Linked DNA regions of Homo sapiens: all the other regions are linked to region 3. Evidence: fine-mapped expression QTL. A gene starts in region 3. Each other region holds a variant in brackets. All regions are shown on one strand. Distances are from middle to middle. Region 1 holds the start of MIR4509-1 (microRNA 4509-1). Region 2 has its middle 110 kb from the start of PWRN4. Region 3 holds the start of NDN (necdin, MAGE family member).

Region 1 (7,812 bases), 490 kb before region 3:
CATGTTTGCCTGAACTCTAATCTTCCACACTTGCTGTAGAAAAGAGTAAAGTGGCAGTTCAGGGCAGTTTACCAATTTAGAAACGGTGTCCGCTCGGTATTTTCCTCTGTGTCACTTACTAAAACATATAAAAGAAACCATGGACATTAAAAGAAAGAGAGAGGTTTAATGTGATATTTTAATTCTAACAAGGATTTATGGGCACATGAATGCCCAAAATCACATACCCCCTTAGTGTTTTTCATCTCACACATATCACATCAGACACATATCACACATATCAGGCACATATCACACAGAACTTACCATAATTAAATTATCAGTTTTTGAAAAATATCATTTGCTCTCTTTTTTTCTATATAAATAAATTTTTTTAAAATATGATTTTCAGTTCTGGGATACATGCACGGAACATGCAGGTTTGTTATATAGGTATACATGTGCCATATAGGTGGTTTCTTATTTGTGTTTTCATCTTATGGCTTTGGCTAGAACTAGATAATAAAAGTATGCATCAATTTAAGAGTTATTTTTAATCATGGTAAGGACATATCTATAACTACTTTGTTAAATTTCATCAGTCATGCATGTTAAATATCATTAAATAAATATCAAAAATGGGCTGCTGTACCAGAATACCATAGACTTGGTGGCTTATAAACAACAGAAAGGAATTTCTCACAGTTCTGGGGTCTGGGAAATCTAAGACCAAGGTACTAGCCAATCTGGTGTCTGGGAAAAACTTTTGTTCTAGTTCAAAGAAGGCTGCCCTTTCTCTATAACCTCAGTTGGGGAAGGAGCAAGGGAGTTCAGGGGGCTGCTTTAGAAGGGTGCTAAACCCATTAATGAGGGCTGCTCTCTCATGACTTAATTAGTTCCCAAAAGCCCCACCTTCAAAAACCCTCACACTGGCGGTTAGCATTTCAACATATGAATTTGAGAGGGATGTAAACATTTAGTCTGTAGCAGTAAATGTACAATATAAGGTAAATAGCTTTATTGTTGTGTTGCATTATATTAATACATATTTTCTAGTATTAAATCTTTGTATGCCAAATCACTGGGGTGGGTGATTTCTTAGTAAGTGTAGAATTCAGTTCCTTTTTCTTTCAGTTAAGAATATTTTAACTATGTTTATAAGGGATACTGTTTAGTAATTTTATTCTTTTTGTATTCACTTCATCAAGAGTTAGTAATAGTTATATTTGCTTTGTAAAATGAACTGAAAGGAAGCCACTTTTTATAACTTTATCCATATTTCCTAGTCTGGGGTCCATTTTACAAGATGTTTTAAACAGATGCTTATTAAAAACACTGGTTATAGGGACTTTAATAAAAATTTTTAAAATAATGTTTTACATTTCTTGCAAACATTGATGCCTGCAACCTATTTACTATTTTTAAAATTAAATTAAGATTCATTTAAGCAGTACATGTTTATTTTAGTGAAACACGTATTTAATTTTCTAAGATAGTATTTTTTGTCTTTAAAACAATTTCTGCATGTTTTGTTTTTTTTTTCACTTTAAATTTTATGTTTTCTCAGTTTTTGTTTTATCACATTTGCTGTATTTTTCTGTATCATGGGTTATTTGTTAAAGAATGAACTTGTGTATGTTTATAAATTGTTACTGTTTTTGTTTATAATTTATTGCCTTCTAACTTAATATGTAATTAGCATTCCTTTTAATTTTGCTTGTATGCTTTGCTGTACCATTTTGAAATTCTTGAGTTAAATGCTTAACTATTTTTTATCAAGTTTAAATATTAAATTAAATATGTCCCATCAGTTTAGTCATTTTAATATTCTCACTCATCAGACATTTTTTGGGAACACCATATGCCTTTTCATGCAGTCAGTTTCAAGAAAATGAAAATTACTTTTTATATGTTTATACTCAAAGCTTGGCTAGAGATAAGTCTCCCCTTCCTTAAGTTGGGGAGAGAGTGATTTCTTCCAGGCTATAGTCAAAAGAGATACAATTATAGTAATTTTTTGTGTTTGTTTGGGTTGTTTCTGTTTGTTTGTTTGTTTGTTTGTTTGAGACGGAGGTTGGATCTTGTTGCCCAGGCTGGAGTGTAGTGGCATAATCTCAGCTCACTGCAACCTCCGCCTCCTGGGTTCAAGCAATTCTAAACATATTTTAGCACAAAACTGTTTAAGATTTCAATTTATATCTTTTTATTATCTTCCATATACTCTTTTGATACATTACCCATTATGTTGATTATTAACGTACACTCAAGTCAAGATCTTTTATTATGTGAGGTCATCAGTCAATGATAACAGATATTGATGAATTAGTCTCCTCATCAGAAATTGAGCAACATTTTCATTCAAGACGACACATGGGCCTTTAAAGCATATTCAATAATACTGAGTCTCAGTCTTCTCCTGCTATTTTCTGAATGTGCATTTAGACCTTTATACATCTATCTATCTACTGACCCATTTATTAAATTTTCAGCATTTACTTTGTACTCCAAGGACCAGAACCATGTTTGTCTTGTTCACTGCTGTACTCCTATTGCAAGGACCTAGAACATAGTAGGAGCTCATTAAACTCTGAGGATTCAAAATAAGTGAATAGAGGTTGTAGCAGGAAGAAGTCTAAGATAGCCCCTATGACCTTCATTTCCTCATGTTACCCTGTTGATACCTCACACGGCAAAGGAGTCTTGCACATGTCACTAAGGCTAATAATCCGTCAGCCTTAAGACGGGGGGAGTACCTGGGTAAACCTAACCTAATCACACCAAAACCTAACAATCAGGGAGTTTTCTACAACTGAGAGTAGAATGGGAAGTCAGAGAGTTTCAGAGTCCAAGAAGCATTTATAGCACCCTTATTGACTTTGAAGATGCTTTGCTTCTTCTTTTGAGTTCAGTTTGAGATTATCTTTCTAATAATTGATTAGATTTTATTCTTGTAAAAAAAGAGATAATTTAAAGGAATCTATTTTTAAATACTCTGAGGAGGGTGATACTAGGGGTGCTGGTTGTCCTGTTTTAACTTTGTCTTAATTTCTAATGTAATTAAATTTTGAGTAGGTAATGTGACCTGTGTGGTTTTTATTTTAAAAAATATATTGAGGTTTTATATAATCTATTTTTAAAATATTCAATGGAAACTTGAAAACATACTGTTTCACATATTCTTGTATATATATATTAAAAATCTTTTTTTATTTATTTTTTATTTTTATTTTTTTTTTGAGACGGAGTCTCGCTCTGTCGCCCAGGCTGGAGTGCAGTGGCGCCATCTGGGCTCACTGCAAGCTCCGCCTCCTGGGTTCACGCCATTCTCCTGCCTCAGCCTCCCGAGTAGCTGGGACTGCAGGCACCCACCACCACGCCCAGCTAATTTTTTGTATTTTTAGTGGAGACAGAGTTTCACCGTGTTAGCCAGGATGGTCTCGATTTCCTGACCTCGTGATCCGCCCGCCTCAGCCTCCCAAAGTGCTGGGATTACAGGCGTGAGCCACTTAGCCCGGCCTAATTATTTGTTTTTTAAAAGATGGTACATAGGAAGAAGTAAATCAGGAAAAGTGGATAGTGATTGGTGGCAGTAGAAGTGAGTCAGTGTTACAGTTACTATTGCTGCTTAAGAAACTAACCCAAATGGCCTGGGTGCCGTGGCTCACGCCTGTAATCCCAGCAGTTTGGGAGGCTGAGACGGGCGGATCATGAGTTCAGGAGATCGAGACCATCCTGCCTAATACGGTGAAACTCTGTCTCTACTAAAAATACAAAAGTTAGCCTGGCCTGGTGGTGGTGGGCGCCTTAAGTCCCAGCTACTCGGGAGGCTGAGGCAGGAGAATGGCGTGAACCCGGGAGGCGGAGCTTGCTGTGAGCCGAGATCGCGCCACTGCAGTCCAGCCTGGGCGACAGAGGGAGACTCCGTCTCAAAAAAAAAAAAATTAAAAAAAAGAAAAAGAAAAAAGAAACTACCCTAAATTTAATAAGGTAAAACAACGACCACTTCATTATATCTCATGGATCCTATAGGTGAGAAATTCCAGCAGGATTCATCTGAGTGATTCTTCCTCTCTCACATCATTAACTAGGGTGACTCAGTGCTAGTCGGCTGGCAAACAAGTCAGTCTGGAAGGTGCAAGGTGCTTTTTTTCTGTCTTATAAATTGGTGGAGTTGTCTGGAAGGCAAGGCTCAGATGGGAAGGACTCTTAGTTATAGTGCCTGCACAGGGTAAACTTTTTTTTTTTCTTTTTTTTTTGAGACGGAGTCTCACTGTCCCCCAGGCTGGAGTGGTGTGGCCCGATCTCGGCTAACTGCAAGCTCCGCCTCCCGGGTTCACGCCATTCTCCTGCCTCAGCCTCCCGAGTAGCTGGGACTACAGGCGCCCACCACCAGGCCCAGCTATTTTTTTGTATTTTTAGTAGAGACGGGGTTTCACCGTGTTAGCCAGGATGGTCTCGATCTCCTGACCTCGTGATCCACCCGCCTTGGCCTCCCAAAGTGCTGGGATTACAGGCCTGAGCCACCGCGCCCGGCCTGCACAGGGTAAACTTCTTATATGGCTGCTGGCTTTCCGCAGATCAAACAC[T/A]CCAAGGGAACCAGGTGGAAAAGGCCTGGTCTCTTTTTATCTCACCTTAAAGGTCAGGTAGAATTATTTGTCATACTCTATTGATTGTAGCAGTCACAAGCACGTCCAGATTTAGGGAAGGGAGACATAGACCTATTTTTTGATGAGAAGAATATCAACCTGTTTTTGGACTATGTTTAAAACTGCCACACATGACAATTACACACCAGGTAGAAGGCATTTGGCGACAGACTTCTTGAAGGAAATGAGGAGGAATCGTGCTCTGCTGAAAAAAGAGCATTCCAAAGAGAGACCACAGCTTGGGCAAAAGCCCTGAGTCGGAATCATGTGGACTTATTCTTAGAACAGCATCGAGGAAGCCATTATAGCTGGAGTAGAATGAGAAGGGGGAAGAGTATTAGTAGATGGTGGCAGAGAAATAAACATGAGAAGACGGATGATGGAACGAGCACCTTGTACGTCATTTTAAGGACTTTGGCTGTTCCTCAAACTGACATGGGACCATTGAAAGATTTTTTTATTTTTTATTTTTTAAATTTAACTTTTAAGTTCAGTGGTACACGTGCAGGTTTGTTATGTAGGTAAACTTGTGTCATGGGGGTTTGTTGTACGGATTATTCTGTTACCCACATGGTAAACCTGCTACCCACTAGTTGTCTTTCCTGATCCTCTCCCTCCTCCCAGCTTTCACCCTCCTTTTCAAAATAAGACATACATGCAGCCAACAAACATAGAAAAAAAGCTCAGCATCACTGATCATTAAAGAAATGCACATCAGAAGTACAATGAGATACTATCTCACACCATTCAGAATGGTTATTATTAAAAAGCCAAAAAATAACATGCTGGCAATATTGTGGAGAAAAGGCAACATTTCTACACTGTTGGTGGGAGTGTAAATTAGTTCAGCCATTGTGGAAGACAGTGTGGTGATTCCTCAAAGACCTAAAAGAACTACCATTCGACCCGGCAATCCTATTACTGGGTATACACCCAAAGGAATATAAATTGTTCTGTCATAAAGACACATGCATGCATATGTTTATTGCAGCGCTATTCACAGTAGCAAAGGCATGGAATCAACATAAATGCCCATCAATGGTAGACTGGATAAAGAAAATGTGGTATATATACACCATGGCATATTATGCCACCATAAAAGATGAGATCACGCCCTTTGTAGGAACATGGATGGAGCTGGAAGCCATTATCCTTAGCCAACTAATGCAGGAACAGAAAACCAAATGTTCCCACTTAGAAGCGAGAGTCAAAGGGGAGAATACATGAACACGTAGAGGGGAACAACATTGAAAGATATAAGCAAAGAAGTGATATCATCTGAATTGCATTTCTGAGATTTCTCTGGCACTTGTGTAAAAAATAGCTGAAAGGAATCAACGGCAGAAGCTGGGAGACCAGTTAGGGAGCTTTTGCAATAACCATAAGAGGAAATATGTGTGGCTTAGACTAGGAATCGTCAGGTTGGGAGTGCTCATTCAAATGTGGTCAGAATCCGGACATTTTGAGTGAGCCTACAGAAAGCTTTAATACTATCTCAAACTAAAGGATATAGAAGGTTTTCCCTTTCTCTTGCCCTGAAACCTTCTGTATCCTTTATTTTGAGATAGTATTAGAATTCTTACTATCTTACTGACAATTCTCACTATCTTGTTTTATAACTTGGAACATGATTATAATTATAGTATTGTTAAATATTTTATTTTTATTTTATAATTATACTTTAAAAATATTATTTTGGTAAATAATCATAAAATATGAAAAATAAATCTTTCCATTAACTGAATCAATTGTCCCCTTGCAGGATTTTGGCTTCACAACTTCCTAATCCTTGAAATATTAATTTTGATTATTTTTCTAATATGTACCCATATGTCTTTGAGTAAATTTTTATTGGAAGGACAAATCAGTGCTGGATATACAGATGCCATTGCTTCGTACTCAGGTAAAGACAACCTGATATTTATGATCCTCTTGATCATATTTTTATTCTCTTAAAATCTTTATGTCTTCTAATAATGTTAACAGAGAAGAAAAAAAGTCTTATCTAAGCCTGACTTTTTATTTTTAAGGAAGTTTTTTTATTTATTTGTAAAATTCAGGAGTTTGGCTAGTTGTTATTTAAATATGGAGAACTCTTCCTTGTTTCTTCCCCCTCCCTGCCTAGAAGCTGGTTGGTGCTTTTATTATTCGTACTTCAGTGATAGCTTTGATTATTGTTTCAGATCTCCTTGCCCTTGTGTCTTTCCCCAGTACACAAACTATTCTCGAGGTGGAACCTGTGGTCTCTGGCATACCCATCCGCCTTCTTCTCTGTCATTAGTTCATCTCTTCCTTTGCCCTCCAGAGCTCTGATTCAATTGCTGCTTGAACTTTTCAGTGTGTCAGTTTCTTTCTCCACGGATTTCCCTGTGGATGGAAAATCTGCCCTTGCACTTTAGTTTTCATAGAAGCCTCATCTCAGCTATCTCCCATTTTGTGATATGAGCCTCTTTTGTTATTGTAGCCTTCATCTCCTATTTCCTAAATTCCATGTGTTTCTACATACTGTTCATAGACAAATAGTTTAAAGCAATGGTCTATAGTTTCTTGTGGTTTGAAAGTCATATATTTTTAAATACGTTTTCTCCCCCTGAGAATTCAGCATACAGTTTCATTTTTCTTGTACGCAGGATGATTTTTAGGATTTTTTTTCTGTTATATTTTTTCCATTCTGGTTACCTAGAAGGTAGTGATTATTACCCCAAACCAGGGTTTGATACTGTGTTAGTCCACTTTCATACTGCTATGAAGAAATACCTGAGACTGGGTAATTTATAAAGAAAAAAAGGTTTAATGGACTCAGTTCCACGTGGCTGGGGAAGCCTCACAATCATGGCAGAAGGCAAAGGAGGAGCAAAGACATGTCTTACATGGTGGCAGGCAAGAGAGAGAGCATGTGCAGGGGAACTCCCCTTTATAAAACCATCAGATCTTGTGAGACTTATTCGGTTTCACAAGAACAACACAGGGAGAAACCCATCCCCATGATTCAGTTACCTCCCACTGGGTCCCTTTCATGACATATGGGGATTATGGGAGCTACAATTCAAGATGAGATTTGGGTAGGGACATAGCCAAACCATATCATTCTTCCCCTGGCGCCTCCTGAATCTCATGTTCTCACATTTCAAAATCAATCATGCCTTCCCAACAGTCCCCCAAAGTTTTAACTCGTTTCAACATTAAC
Region 2 (7,812 bases), 180 kb after region 3:
TCCTTTATCATTTATCCTTTAGTTATTAGTCGGTATCCTACTGTCTGGAAGAGTTTTACTTTCACCTTCATTCATTCATTCACTGATTTATATTGGTTTGGACTCATGATTCTCATTTCGATCATTGGGTTAAATCCCTTACTACCTTTTATCTATTTTTTAAAATTAAAGTTCTTGTAACACAGTTCTAAATTTACAGAAAAGATGGGAAAGTAGTAAAGAAATTTCCTATGTAGCTACTCAGAGTTCCTCCTAAAGATAGTCCAGAGTATCTGACACCCAGTTTTGCCCTTACTGACATCTTACATAGGTATGGTACATTTATTACAGTGAATGAACCAATATTGGTGTATTATTAACTAAAATGCACACTTATTCAAATTTCCCTGGTGTCCATCTAATGTGTGCTTTGTCTCTTCCAGGATCTCAGTCTGAATTCCAAACCCCATTTACTCATCATGTTTCCTTAGGATCCTCTAGACTGTGATGGCTTTTTTAGACTTTCCTTGTTTTTGATAACTTTGACACTTTTTAGAATTACTGGTCAAATATTTTGTAAAACATCCATCAATTGGGATCTATTTTATGATTTTCTCATTATTAGACTGGTGCTATGGATTTTGAGGGAGAAGGTTCATCAAGATAAACTGCCAGTTTTATAACATCCTATCAATGGTATATGTTATCAACATGAATTATCACTGTTGATGTTGACCTTCAACACCTGGTTTGGACAATGATTCTCAGGGTTCTCCACTGTAAAAGTATTTATTTTTCTCCATTTCCATACTATACTCCTTAGAAGGAAGTCACTATGAGAAGCCCACACTTAAGTCATAAGATATGCTCTACCTCCTCAAGGGGAGATTATCTATATAAATTATTTGGAATTCTGACTCCTTCAGGCTGGCTTCTGTAGACTTTGACATGTTCCCATGCTTTTTTCCAGCACTTCCTTACTGGAATATTGTTTTCCTTCAAAAATAAATTATTCAGTTCTTTTCTGATTTGTAGTATCTTATTTATATGAGTTTATATACTCACGGGCTACATTCAGCTTTATACTATTTTTCTATTATCCCTTTTTCACTAGCACTTGTTGACCATGCAAAAGTGACGAATGCATTAGTTAAATCATGAGGCAGGGTCTTCTGTAAGCCCATAAGCCCCTAGAAATACCCTAAAACAAAGTGGCTAATGGAAGATTTTGCTCATAGCTTAAAAATTGCTAATATTGGGAAATTCGCTTGTGCTTCAATAATTTGAGGGAAGTGACTGCCTTCTCTATTAAAGTCTTTCAGTTTAAATGTATACCTCTGTTTTTGTTCTCAACCCACAATTTTCCAGCACCTCTTCCACTACCTCTTCTATCCATTTTCTGCATATTCCAACTGAGATATACCGCAATTAAATCTTCCTCCAGGCTCACTGTTTATTATATTAATATTTCTGTCACTTTGGAGTTGGGGAGCCATCCTGTGTCCATAAAAATTACTGAATTGTAACAGAAACTGCTCTTAGACATTTGAGTGAGAAGTCATTTGAGTGAGAAGACATTTGAGTGAGAAGTCAAGAGAGTTTATTTTGCAGCTTTTTCTTAGCACAGGGATAGTGCCCTGCATTCCCCAGTTGCTAAAGCCCTTAAACTCTTCCTGTGAAAATTTACATTAATTTCTCTTCCTCGAAGAAAATGTGTGAACCCTGAGAACAACTCCATTTTTTAACGTTAAAATCCACTTCATTCATATGTGAGTTGTCAGTGTTAGAAATTTATGCAACTATCAGAAACCCATGTTGTAGCGCCATCTGTCATCCAAAAATGGAAGAATGAGAGCAAACAAATTTCTAAGAACCCAGGCTCCCAGCAGCTGCTGTAGATCGTGGTGGTGATTGTGAAGACAGAGTTCAGAGTCCTGGACAGAAACGATTCCAAGGAACCACTGTTGATGGACTTCAATGAACAGCAAATTATAATGTCTTTTAAATTATACAATTCGTACAATTTACTGTGAATATTCAAACGTACAGAAGATTACAAATTAAACATTAAAATGTATATACACAATATCCTTTTTTCCATTTAACTGCATACCATTATTATTATTATTATTTTTTGAGACGGAGTCTCACTCTGTCGCCCAGGCTGGAGTGCAGTGGCGCAATCTCGGCTTACTGCAAGCTCCGCCTCCCGGGTTCACGCCATTCTCCTGCCTCAGCCTCCCGAGTAGCTGGGACTACAGGTGCCCGCCACCACGCCCCGCTAATTTTTTGTTTTTTAGTAGAGACGGGTTTTCACCGTGTTAGACAGGATGTTCTCGATCTCCTGACCTTGTGATCTGCCTGCCTTGGCCTCCCAAAGTGCTGGGATTACAGGCGTGAGCCACTGGGCCCGCCGACTGCATACCATTTTTAACTGTGTTTATGTGTGCATATTTTCCAGTACGTCTACCAATGTATCCAAATGAACTTATATGTCTACCTACATAGAGATAGCAATTTAGATGTAGATACAGCTATAAATATAGATATTAGATTTTTCATAATGCTTTCAATGGCATTTAACCAGATCTATATCTACTAATGTATATGTTTCTATATATATTTAATAGATTGATCTAGCTATATATATATGTATATATAGCTATATAGGTGATATTCACATTTTATTTTCCAAATTGGTTATCTGTAGTATGTCATAGTGCTCTTTCCATATCATTAGATATCCACTGCAGTATTTTTGTTAGCACTTTGTATTCCAAAATACATATACCCTTCAATTTGCCTATGGCCTATTCATAAAAATTTAGTGTATTTTTATTTTTAAATTTTGCAGAAAATGCTGCAGAAAGCATTCTGATGAACCTTACACTTCAGTAATAATAAAATCAGTGAGTCAAAAACGTATATAGCAATACATACCCTACATTAAAATGTGTATGTAACAGACCAGGCATCGTGGCTCACGCCTGTAATCCCAGCACTTTGGGAGGCGGCAGTGGGTGGATAACCTGAGGTTGGGAGTTCCCGACCAGCCTGGCCTGAACATGATGAAACCCCGTCTCTACTAAAGATACAAAAAATAGCCGGGCATAGTGGTGGGCACCTGTAATCCTGCTACTCAGGAGGCTGAGGCAGGAGAATTGCTTGAACCCCGGTGGCGGAGGTTGCAGTGAGCCGAGATCACGCCACTGCACTCCAGCCTGGGCACCAAGAGTGAGACAATGTCTCAAAAAAAAAAAGTGTATGTAATAAATTACATAGGCAATTCTCAAGCCTAAATATTAGTAATTCATTTTCTCCCCAGTCAGGCTAAAGTGGTTTCTCTAATTAGCTTATTTAATTTTGGAGGATACATAGTGTTTATTGTGTTATTTATGTTTTTCTGGAAAAGTGCCTGCTCATGTCACTTAATACATTATTTTTAAAATTAGGTTGCTTTTATTACTTATTAATTTTAGGTCATGATATTTTATTAGCATTATATTGGGTCCTTCACTGCAAATACATTACAAATATTTAACTATTATTTGTAGTCTTTCTCTAGTATGCTTAAACATTATTAAATAATTTTATGGACAAATGTAAATATTTCCGATTTCACGTGGACAGTTAGGAAATATTTTATTGCTGTTTAATTTTCTTTTAAGATGCATAGTCTTTTATTACATCTAGAATTTATATATATGGTCAAAGGTGGAGAATCTAAGGTTACTTTTTAATATATGGCTGGAAATTCTAAAATCTTTATACATCCACTCTGGATTGTAGATTTTTATTAAGTTTTATGTTATATACAAAATATATTCAGTGAAAAATTGTAACAAGAGTCTCCCTGAATAGTATGACAAGTGCTATTTTTTAAAACCATTTTTGAGTATTTTCTTCTTACTGTGATTTTGTTGGTACTGGTACATTTGTCTAAATACGTATTTTAGGGTGCACGCTACTTCGTAAGCTATTAACCTTTCAGATTCAGCTTTTCAGGACTGACCTGTAAGAATGCAGCTACAGAACGTATAAACTACAGGATTTTCTTTCCATGCAACCTGAAATGCTTTTTTCTGGAAGCAACGGCAAAAAAAAAAGTTATTTTACACTTATTTTATGCTATGCTGAAAAGCAGCAAGGATATAGAAATCGATCGTGGGGTGACAGAGACTTTTGGAAACTGTTTATTCTTGACTTCTTAACAGCCCAGAGAGAAGACTCAATAACCCTCTGGTCTCCGGGTATTCCCGGTTTGTCCCAGGATGGTAACCATGGGTGCGCCTGACAGCGCACTGCCGCAGGAGCGCCGGTCAGACAGGAGGC[T/G]ACCTCGCGGTGTGCTGTGGGAAGGTCATGTGGGCGGGGAGGCCTTCGGCTACGGGGGTCGGGCCAGGAGCTTCCGCTCAGCGCTGGTGAGGCGGAGCCAGGAGGAGCGGCTGCGCTCCTGCGGGCCTCAGGCTCTTGGGCCTTGGCCAGGTCCCTTTAAGATCAGGGCGCTTGCTAGGAATTTCTCGTCTCTGGTTTGCGCGGGGAAATTGAGATGGGAAATATCGCTCAACTCCCCTGACTTCATTCTTTCTAGGGTTTAGGCCCCCAGACGTGGATTTTGCTTGTTTGTTTGTTTCCTACCATATAAAGGGAGTGGCTTTTTTTTTTTTCTGGAAAACGTAAAAGTGTTGTTAATATCTATCGATTTTATATTCATGTGACGATCCACAAATAAAGTTTTTGTATTCCTTTGTATTATTAGCGCTTTATATTTCTACTTTAATTACATTGGTAAGACTTTTTTTTTTGAATGTTTAGATTGATGTGGAGTTTTTTGTTTAATGGGAAGTCAACATCAATTTTGATTTTAGATTTGGATACTGATTCTCTATTTTGTGTTCTTTGGACTTTTTCATCTACCACAAAAGCTCCAGAAGCAAAATTTCTTCATAGTTTTATACATTATCTTTAAAATCCTGTGACTATTACCAGTATATAACCTTATTTAAAAGTTTGTGATTTTTACCCCCAATCTTTTAATTTTCATTCCACTTAAACAACTTTATTAAATTCATTAATAGGAAAACTATTGAACTTCATTTTTGAACCACTTCTATATGAAACTCCTCCGACTTCAGAATTTTGTTTCTAACTTACCCCCACCCTTGTACCTCGTGTGCCATCTCCTAGCTCAGTCATCTGTTGCAGAAATCTCTTCACTGCCACCTCTCACAAAATAAGCAAGTGTAGGTCCTTTTTTCCTATGTGTTGTAAATTATGTGGAATTTACCTCCATGTTCTTCTGTATTCTAAAAGTATTATAAAAGGACATTGACAAAGTTAAGGGTGAAGCAGAGGCAGGAAAGAAATCCCAATAACAAAATTCCTGATATGACATTTAGGAATGATATTCAGCTGTCTTCTTATAGACTTAGAAATTTTCTTTGAGGAATATTCAGAACTATATGCGAGTAATTATTTTGCTGTGTTAACTTTCTAATTTTTGAGGGAAGAAAATATTTTGTTGATAAAAATTTAAATCTAGAAAAAAATTACATAATAATAGACTGTCATCTACTTTCTGAATCCTGAAATTTGCAACCACCTTCAACATTCATACCTGGGTGTCTGCGTTTTCAGATCTATGCTTGTAAATACCTATATACACAAATATGCATATTTCTGTTTTCCTGCGTGCAGTAGACTATACAAGGTTAATTGTGTTAATTTAAACTAGATATATCAAGTCATAGAATTGCCATGCGGTGTTATCAATGCTCCTTTAATTGGTTGGAACGTTATAACTAAAAAAATACATAGTATGCCTTCTTACATCCACTGCACAAGTGAGGACACTAAAATGTGATAGGGTAACTATTGAAAGGTTACAAAGGCATTAAGTGATGAAATCAGAATACCATCCCTCTGGTTCGCTGCACCCTACCATCCTCTTCACCACTGTATAGGAAGAAAAATCATCTCACTGTTCTGTTCTATAGTCTTTTACTGTGGATGTGTTAAATATTCAGAAATTACTGATTATCTCTAATATTTGTATGTTAATCTGTTGAAAGGGTGTGTTATAGTATATTTAAAAAATTATCCATTATTCTTTGATGGATATATACAGTAGTTTGTTTTCTTTTTGTATTTTGCCAAAAGAAACAGTATTGGAGTCCACATCCCTGTACATTCGTCTGTACTAGAGGTCTATTATTTTTGTAGAATATATTCATAGAATTTAAAATTCTGGGTCAAAGGATGTGCATCTCTGAAATCTTATATAGTAGCAAATTGCTACCCAAGTTATATTACTTTTTACTATAATGTACATCATCTTGTAGAGTTATGTTGTATATGACATAATATGAGAAACAGTTTTCATATTGAAAAAGTACATTTCCTCTCCTTTACTAATTAGAATACATAATTCAGTCATTTTGATTTAGCAGCTATTTAAATACTTTTTATTGCTTTTAACTAAACCTTTCACATGCCTTTGGTAAGTTTTTTTGGGAGTGGCCTGATTGGTTGACTCATTACAGATGGACAATAAACCAGAGGAAAGAGCAGAGAGAAAGCAAATGACAAAGACCGTGTTTAAAATAAACATTGAGAGGCATTCTGGGGAACTTTGGTGTGGGTGTTTGCTGTAAGTGCTGCCTATTTGTAATTCAAGCCTAAAGACCATGTTTTAAGAATTCTGGTATAAAAGAAAAATCTTAATCTCATTTCTTTAAGATGCAATGAGGATTTATTTCATATCACATCAAATATTCAAATCATCGTAACCATCTTGGACTGTTCTGAAAGCTCAGGTATGTCCTGAGTCCCAACCTGATTTTCTTTTCTACCACGCTCAACATGTAGACCTTCTTATTCCTCCAGTATTGGAGGATGAGTTGAGGTCAGTGATGGGGATTACCATTACATCTCTTGACAGATGGCATGTGTGGATTACTTGCTCAGTTGTAAAATACTGTATACTTGCTCAAACTAAACACCTACCAGTTAAGCTGTGGGTTTACTCCAGGGGCTTATCATTTTCTTGTAGGGAGAATCACCTTACACTGAGTCAGACCTGTAACAGTAGCCATGGCATGACGTGATTCATGGAAAACACATGGAACAATTCTTGACACGTAAAATGAATTGAATAATTGCTAGCCATTATCTTAATAGTTATTCACATGAATTTACACATCTTGTCTTAAAGATAAAAATAGAAAACAGCACTTAAAGAAGTTTAAAAACACAATACTCTAAGACTGAGAAAATATGTTTCTTAAGGTCACACTGTGTGTGACAAGACTATGATATTAACTGAAACAATGTCATAAAGCCAAACTCAATTTTAAGCATTAAACAGCAGTGATATTATGAGGCATTTGGCATACATTTTTTTCCTATGCCTCCCTATTCTTTGCTTCTTATTGTATCATCTCCCGTCCTGCAACCATGCATTTGTGGGATACCATGCATAAATATTACGTTGATCTCAAACTCAGGACCTGGTCACAGTCCTCATCTAGGACTATCATTAATAGTCATGAATGGAGAGTGGCAGACTACAAAATTAGTTAATTCCCAATATTGTGTTCACTGCAATGCAAATTTCTCAAGAGTAAAATAGGAAGTCTTGGTTTTGCCAAATCAGAGATGCAAAATTTGCTATCAAAGGCCACATTGCTGATTGGGATCCTAAAGTGAGAAAAGGATCCTGTTCAAAGTATATGTTTTGTGTACTTGAGAGAATGAAAGTACTAAGGAAATGAGCACACAAAGAACATGTTGCTTCTTGGTGGTAAACTGCTAGCAAAATAGAATTGTGAGCCATGT
Region 3 (7,812 bases):
GGGACGAGTCGCTCTGCCCCATGCCTTACTCCTTTCTCACATTCTCACATTCTCACATTCTGTTTCTCCTGCAAGGGCTAGGTCCTCTATGGCCTGGCTAGGGTGCCTGTGTGAGTGAGCTTGGGACAGCTTTGGAAAGGGTGGTTCTCCCTGCCTCTGACAGCAGAGAGGAAAGTGGACACAACATAAGGAGTTAAACGGGGATGTAAGGAGACTGTTTGCCTGGTGATTTCTGGGCTTGACTGCAAGAAGCGCACAGGGGTTACTGCTCCTGCAAGGCATCAATCCAGCAGTGAGGGAAGTATTAAGGCATTAGAGAAGATGACCAGCACCATGTGTGGCAGGAACAACAGCCCACAGTCCTACTCCAGAAATGAAACATCCTGGATATCCCCACAATTTTAAATGATAACGGGCAGGTTTATTTTGATTCTGGAGAAACTTTTCGATGGGTTGTGGGGAGGTAAGATTTCCAAACAATCCTAACACTTCTGAACAGGTGAGACACTCACATTGGTTTTGTGTAAGAGGTGCCATCAAAGCCAGGTCACCCCTGCCTGGGTGATTGCAGAAATGTCCCCCTTTCTCTGCAGAACCCCCTTGAAAATCTTCACAGGAAGCTTTTAAACCGGGATGGATTTCATCTCAGCATGAACAGGGGCTTCCTAAGCATTTCCAGCACCTGCCCCCACCTGTTAAGTAATGCCAGTAAGTGTTGGCAATTCCAAATTATAATTCCCTCACCCTAATAGGACTCCCAGTTTACTTCTTTGGGGTGTTATGTGACATGTGTCCTCTTCATTATCCATCTTCCACAGAAAAGTTTCTGGCTTTGGCCAAATGGTCTTTCCCACTCTTTTGTAGTTTAAAGGACTTCTAGTCTTATTAAAGCCCCCTTTCTCCCCGCTACCCCTTGCAGGACTAAAAATTCACAGTGAGATTTTTCTTCAGGCATTGCCCCTAATGCCCACCCGCAGCCCACCCCATCCTCTGAGGATTACCTAGTGGCTCACCGCAACTGAAGGGCTGCAAGGCCACAGACATCCTGATGGACAACCCACCTCCCTCTCTCAGGTGTCTTGTGTGTTTGTCAGAGAAGGTGCCTTCACCTCCAACCCTCAGGAGAGATTGTTTCAAATCCTAGCTTCACTGCTAAATAGGAATATCACTTTGTTAGGTTAATTAACCTCTCCAAAAGTAAGTTTCTTAATTTGCACAATCAGAATGATATTGCTTTCTCCAAAATATCATGAGAATTAGAAAAATAAAATTCCTAGCCTTTTTGTATGTGTGGCCCATGAACCCATGTGATTGTAGGCTCCCACATAAAATGTAAAAATAAATTTAAAAATAAATAACCTAAAAGCCACGGGGTATAGGGCAGTCGTAGGCAGGTGGAGACAAATGTGGGCTCTGGATTCATTCTGAGTTCAAGTCCTAGCTCCTTCTCTTATTAACCTTTATGAGCTATGGAAAGTTCATTACCTACATTATTCCTGTGTTTCCTCCATGGTGCAGAGGCAGTAGGTGCCTGCCTGACAGGCCTGTTGCAAGGATTAAAGGAGAAAAATACATGTTAGGGCTTAGCACAATGTCTCACTCTTTTATATTATAAATATGTTATATGTATATTAATAGATGTCACAAGACATCTATTAATTTTGATAAAATGTAGAAACTTAAGGGAAGGAAATTATTTTTGTTTTTTATTCCCATATGATGTGATTACAGACAATCTTACTGTTTTGTTTTGTATACTTTTCTATATTTGTGAATGTTTTTGAAATAAACATGAGTTACATTTAAAGACAATAGAACTATAAACTTCACAAATTTAGGAGTAATCATGAGTAGCGATTTTTCCCACCCTATTAGGGGAAATAGTTGTATCTGTATACACTGTAAAATAGAGAATTGTCTCATTCCCAACCATACTGCTTTGTTAAAATGATAAAGTACACTTTTCCAAAAATGATTGTATCACAAGAATCTTTAATGTTTACTTTAAAGTTGACTCACGGTGGGGTTGTATATGTGTTTAGTAAAGTGTGCCAAGTGCTCACACTGAGACCAGTCCAGTTCAAATTAGTGTACTCCACGAGGGTGTTTTCTGTGCCCAGCAAGGTCATGAAGGGCCTTGACTTTTCTTGGTTAGGCCGGCTTTGCTGGTGACTTCTTCCAAACTCTGCAGGAGCAGTCTACCCCAACACACATCATCAGTCCCATATAAAAGAATAAGATGGAAACTTTCTCAATGTATTTCATCAGTTTAGCACATCTCTGGTACAAAAATCCAAGAAAGGTAGCACAAAAGCGAAAGCACCAACCAAGCTTACATATAAACAAACATGCATACATCCTAAATACTACACAATAGTACCCAAATGAATACAACATTGCATTAAAGGTATAAAAGCACTGTACTGAAAACTTAAAAGTTACACGTGAATACTGCACTGTAAATCCTGAATACTATAATGACCCACCCCCACCCTTCCACAGCCCTGGTGAGGGTCAGAAACCATTCATCTGCCTCCAGACTTTGCTAGTCCTCAGAGACACTGCTGCGAGGGTAGTGGGCAGTGGGATTAGCCTCCCGCAGAGCTCTGGCCTCCTCCAGAGCTTCTCTGTATCGGGAGGGCCAGGCCTGGGGGTCTTTCTTAAAGACCCTGGCCAGGAACTCCATGATTTGCATCTTGGTGATTTCGCGGCTGGCCCGGGAGCCCCAAAAGAACTCGTATTCGGGCGGCTCCACGTATGGGACGCGCTGGTACTTCAGGTAATTCATTTGGACGAACTCCTCAGTGATGAGCTTCCGCACGTCCCCGAAGGTGGAGTGCTTCTTCCAGGGCCGCAGCCCCAGGATGCGCAGCACGTTCCAGACGGCGCTCTCTCTGGCGCCGCGGCCCTTCACGTAGATGAGGCTCAGGATCATGAGCAGGAGGCCTGTCATGGGCATGCGGTTGCTCAGCGCCACCCTGTCCAGCTCCTCGGGCTCCAGCGCTTTGACCAGCGCAAACTCCATGGTGTGCAGGCTGGTTAGCCTCAGGTGCAGCCCGAACACCCGGGCGAGGATGAGGCTGGTGCGCCGGAGGATGCTCCTGCACCACTTCTTGTAGCTGCCGATGACATCTTTCACCATGTCTGGAAACCAGATGATCATCTTCTTCTGGTCCTTGACCAGCACGTACCACATGAGCTCGTGCGCCTTCTGCACCAGCTGCGCCGGGGCTGGCGGTGCCGGGCCCGGCTGGGCCGCGCTCGGGGCCTGGTGGGCGCGGCCCTCCTCCGCAGCCTGCTGCAGGGCCTTCGGGTCGCCCTCGTCGTTCGGGGCCTGGGGAGGCGGCGCGGCCTGCGGAGCGGCCGTCGGGCCTAGAGGAGGGCTCTGCGGCTCTGCCAGGGTCGCGGACGGAGGAACCCCCTCCGAAACCCCAGGGCTGCTGTGCACCTCGGAGTTGGGGGCCTCGGCTGCAAAGTTAGGGTCGCTCAGATCCTTACTTTGTTCTGACATGTCTGCGCCGTCTGGCAAGGGCAGGGCCTCTGCGTCCAGGAGCTCTTCGAGCCTGCGCTCCCTCCGCGGATTCCTGGAGAGGAAGTGCGCGTTGCTGCGCGCGGCGCCTTCCGCAGCGACGGGCAGGGCGGGGCGGCGGCGGGACGCGGCACTGCGCCTGCGCGACCGCGGCCTTGGCCAGCGGCTGGGGGCGGGCGGGGCAGCGCGGGGCCCCGACGGGGAGGGTCCATGGCGAGGCTTCACCTGCTGGGAGAGCGATCCCGGGGTTTCCTGTTTGGGCTGAGAAGATCTAGGGCAGGAGAGAAGTGAGATGGATGCGTACTGGAGAAGGGGCCAGTTTAAGGGAAAGATACCTTAAGTTTTTGGGATGTTGGGGTCAAGTTTCTTGGGAAACGCTTACCTGGGTATATCCAGAATTAAGTTAAATATGAGAGTCCCAGAGAAAGGTCTGGGCGGCTTTGTAAACATGAGCTTTATGCGAACCAGTGAGAGGAACAGTCGGGCTTGTCCAAGAAAATGTGTAAACTGTAAAGTGGATGTCTGAGGTTGGAATCCTGAGAAATTCCAATAAAAAATGATCGACTCCCTACCAAATCAGATAGGCTATAAGAAAAGGGGAAATGCAGTGTGTCGTTAACGTAATTTCCTATCAACCCATGTGAACTATGAACTTTTTAAGTAGGCAGTGGACTTAGAGCATCATTAATGCTTTAACGGGCATAAATTTGGGTTTTACACTTCCTTTGGGTAACTTTGATTCCATTTTATTTTTTTCCATACTTAGTCCATAGCAGAAGGATTGCTATATCTTTTAGCACAAACTTGTATGATAATGTCTTTTCCCTCTGCCCAGCACCCTCATTCTTCAATTCACCTTCTCTCAGGACCCTCTCTGAAGCTACTGAGTCCTCCACGTTGGAAGCCACACCCAAGTCTTTCCTGAGATTTAAAAAAAAAATAGGTCCCATGGGTAATATCTGGTAGTGTCTCTGAGATGACCAAAGGGTAGCAGGGGAAACATAGGTAACCCTGTTTTCCAGGTATGGAAAACAGATTCCCAGTGGGCAAAGACAAAACTGTCACTCCTACAGGCTCTCCATGAAAAAAAGGGTCATTGCCTGAGCATCTGAAACCAGGGACCTTAATGCTGCTTCAGCATCCTTGGTCTGGGCTGATGTGGTCCTTCAGCTCTTCCCGGGTTTCTTCTCATCAGCAGCTTCTTAAATATGCTGTCTTGAATCTAGTTATTGCCACTCGAAGCCAAAAGCATATTTAAAAATTGTCTTGACATGTCTAGAGTCCTCACTGTGAGTATGTATCTTTTCCCACTTTATTTTTCCTCAAGCAGGTTGATGTTGAAAGGTTTTCTGTGCTTTCTCTCTTTGGGTTTGCACGCACATAACACTTTTGGCAGAGCCATTACCACACCAGTCCCTCCAACAGGACTCTTAAGCTTCCCACTTCACCAGGGTAATTCCTAGATATCAGTCTTAGTTGGAATTATTTCAACACTTTTCTCCTCCTCCTCACCCTCCTCCACCTCCTCCTTCTCCTCTCCATCTACTTCTCCTTTTTCTCCTTCTTCTATTTATAGATATCTACCATTTTCTTGGGAACATCTTACAGAAATATGCTAATTATATTCATTGTTTTTAAGAATGTCTCTTGAACAGACTTATTACCCCCATGCTTCATAAATATAATCCTCATTTATTGCATTTAAATCTCCATCAATATTATTCTTTATTTTGTTTGGGTATGTATTATTTTCTAACTATTTAAATAAAATATTTAGGCCAGGTGCGGTGGCTCACGCCTGTAATCCCAGCACTTTGGGAAGGTGAGGCGGGCAGATCACCTGAGGTCAGGAGGTCGAGACCAGCCTGGCCAACGTGGCAAAACCCCGTCTCTACTAAAAATACAAAAATTAGCCGGGTGTGGTGGTGGGCACCCTTAATCCCAACTGCTTGGCAGGCTGAGGCAGGAGACTCGCTTGAACCTGGGAGGTGGAGTTTGCAGTCAGCTGAGAGCATGCCACTGCACTCCAGCCTGGGCAACAGAGCGAGACTGTCTCAAACATTAAATAAATAAAGAAATAAAATATTTAGTTCATTTGATATATTTTTTAATAAGAAAAGTGTTTGAACCTACTATTTAAATCTCAACTTGGCTTTGGCCATAGGCTATGGTTTTTAACATTGTGATCTCATTAAAACTGCATTCTCACATGTCACCCTCCGAGATGTAATGGATTCTTGAAATTAAAGTGCAGGCTTGGGGCATGACAACAATAAAAGGTGGCTCTGCTGAAGTGAGTATCAGCGCTCTGGCCAGAGAGCTGCTTGGACTTCAGTTGCTGCCTGGGCAGGACTGGATAACTTCTACCTGGACTTCATTCTAGTGAAGTTGCCAGCATCAAGCAGACTGTGCAGAAGGCCTCTCCTGCAGCACACAACACACTACACTTCTGACAGAAGGGTTGTCCAATGCTGTACCAGGGCCTGTCGATTAAGACCACCCTGAGAGATTACACTTGGAAGGCTTAAAGCCTTAGGTCTGATGCACAAGTCTGAAATGAAGCACAGGCTAGACCTGGAGCCCAACTGTACACCTGCTAAAATGATATCATCTTCTTCCTGAAGAATGAAGAGGTTCAATTCCCCCCCAAAATCAAATTACTGGGAGTAGAAGTTTGGGTAGGTGGGGTAGTGGGACAAAATAAAGCCTGGGATAGCCTGTTAGTGGGGAAAGCACACATGCGCAGGTGCAATGGGATAGACGGGTCAGTAGCTTGATGGCTGCCTAATAAGGTGTGTGCCCACGAACCAGAGATTCCGACCTTCAGAGTAATAACAAAAAGGACCAAAGACACTGTGAGAAATGAGACGAAGCTAGTACTTGGAAGGCATCCACAACTACCTTGACCCAAGGCTCAAGATCTGGGATGGAGCTCTAATGCTGTCCTGAGAGTCATGGGGATAATAAATCTTGCTGGGTGTCTCCAGGGGGGCCCCTATTTGAGTTGGGCAATAAGTCCTCTCAGGGCCAGCAGCTTAGTAGAAAAGTGTGAAGACTACAAAAATATATCTCAACTACTCATTAAATCAAAATTCTGTAAATAGAAGTTCTGTGAATAGACACAGAAAATATACGGAGAAGCTGTAACTTAAAATATTCTGGAGCAGACAGTTTTGCTGGTGGGTTACTTCGAACTCTGTAATACGGAACAGATTACACAGCTGTGGAATAGGCTGTTCTTGGCAGACCCAGGAACAGGAGGAGAGGCCAGTCCCAGCCTTGGTTTCCATAGTGAACGGAGGAAGGGGGGTCACCCCAGAGCCTCTAGTGGGAAGTGCGCATGCTCGCAGTGCAGGGGCCCAGAGGCCCTGGATGAAATGTGAATCCTCTGGCTCTTCCCTGTCCACATAGGCAGCAACCTCCACCTTGGAGCCCCTAAATGGGCCCCAAATGCCTTTCAGGCCAAGGATCTTAAACGGAATTCACTTTAATGTGTTCAGCAAATATTGAGCAATATCCGTCATGTGCCTGAAATATTTGCATTTCAGAAAAGTCTCAGTCTGAGGGAAAAACCCATGGCAGCTGGGCCCCTTTTTTTGTTAGAAAACATTAAGAAGTTAGGACAGGCAGTGCTGCTTTCCAAAGTTGGGAGGGTGTAGGGAGGGACTGGACCCTGGCCCCTCATCCCCAGCCTCCCTAGGGGGCCACTGCTCATGCTCATCCATTCAAGGTCCATCGCATGCACTGAAATGGGAGAATTTTCTGTTCTGCACAGCCCCAAGGAGCAGCTCTCTCAGATAGTTAAGGAGTCTAGGGTGTCTTCTGAAAAGTCACCTGCATACAGAGTAAGATTAGAGTTTGGGGCAGGTGGACAAGCAGAGGCAGGGAGTCTCATTAGGGGTCCCTTCCCAGGACTCCATGTGAAAATGGGTGATGGCTTGCATTTCATCTTCATTCGCCAACTGTTTACTAACATTACATTTCAGGCCTTGTGCCTGGGGATACAATGAGAAGTGACATGGTCTCTGTAATCTGTACTGAGGGAAAGTGGTGGAGAAAAAGAGCGTTAAAAGAGAAAACAAATGCCTGATCAAATCATATGTTATGATGCATATTGTGAAGCAATATTATCACCAAGAGTGGGACAGAGGGAGCCGAGGTTCAATAGAAATGCCAGGTTCAAAAGATATAAACAGCAATGGAAGGGGAGGGGAGACTGTGAATAACAGGCACATCCAGGATTCTGTCTCAGGCAGCCAATTGAGCAGGACAGTGCAGCTATG

The links.
Region 1: its variant is fine-mapped to the expression of NDN in whole blood (INTERVAL, PIP above 0.99).
Region 2: its variant is fine-mapped to the expression of NDN in whole blood (TOPMed, PIP above 0.99).

The regions. Positions count from the first base shown.
Region 1 is chr15:23,191,720-23,199,531 of GRCh38, forward strand. MIR4509-1 (microRNA 4509-1) reads left to right here and starts at 6,108; the gene lies at 6,108-6,201. The variant T/A (reference allele first, on the strand shown) is at 4,566.
Region 2 is chr15:23,865,227-23,873,038 of GRCh38, forward strand. No RefSeq gene overlaps it. Among named protein-coding and RNA genes, the nearest start is that of PWRN4, 110 kb to the right of the region's middle. The variant T/G (reference allele first, on the strand shown) is at 4,312.
Region 3 is chr15:23,683,707-23,691,518 of GRCh38, forward strand. It overlaps NDN (necdin, MAGE family member), which reads right to left and starts at 3,599. Exons shown (of 1, transcript NM_002487.3): 1 at 1,694-3,599. The coding sequence starts at 3,511. The coding sequence ends at 2,546.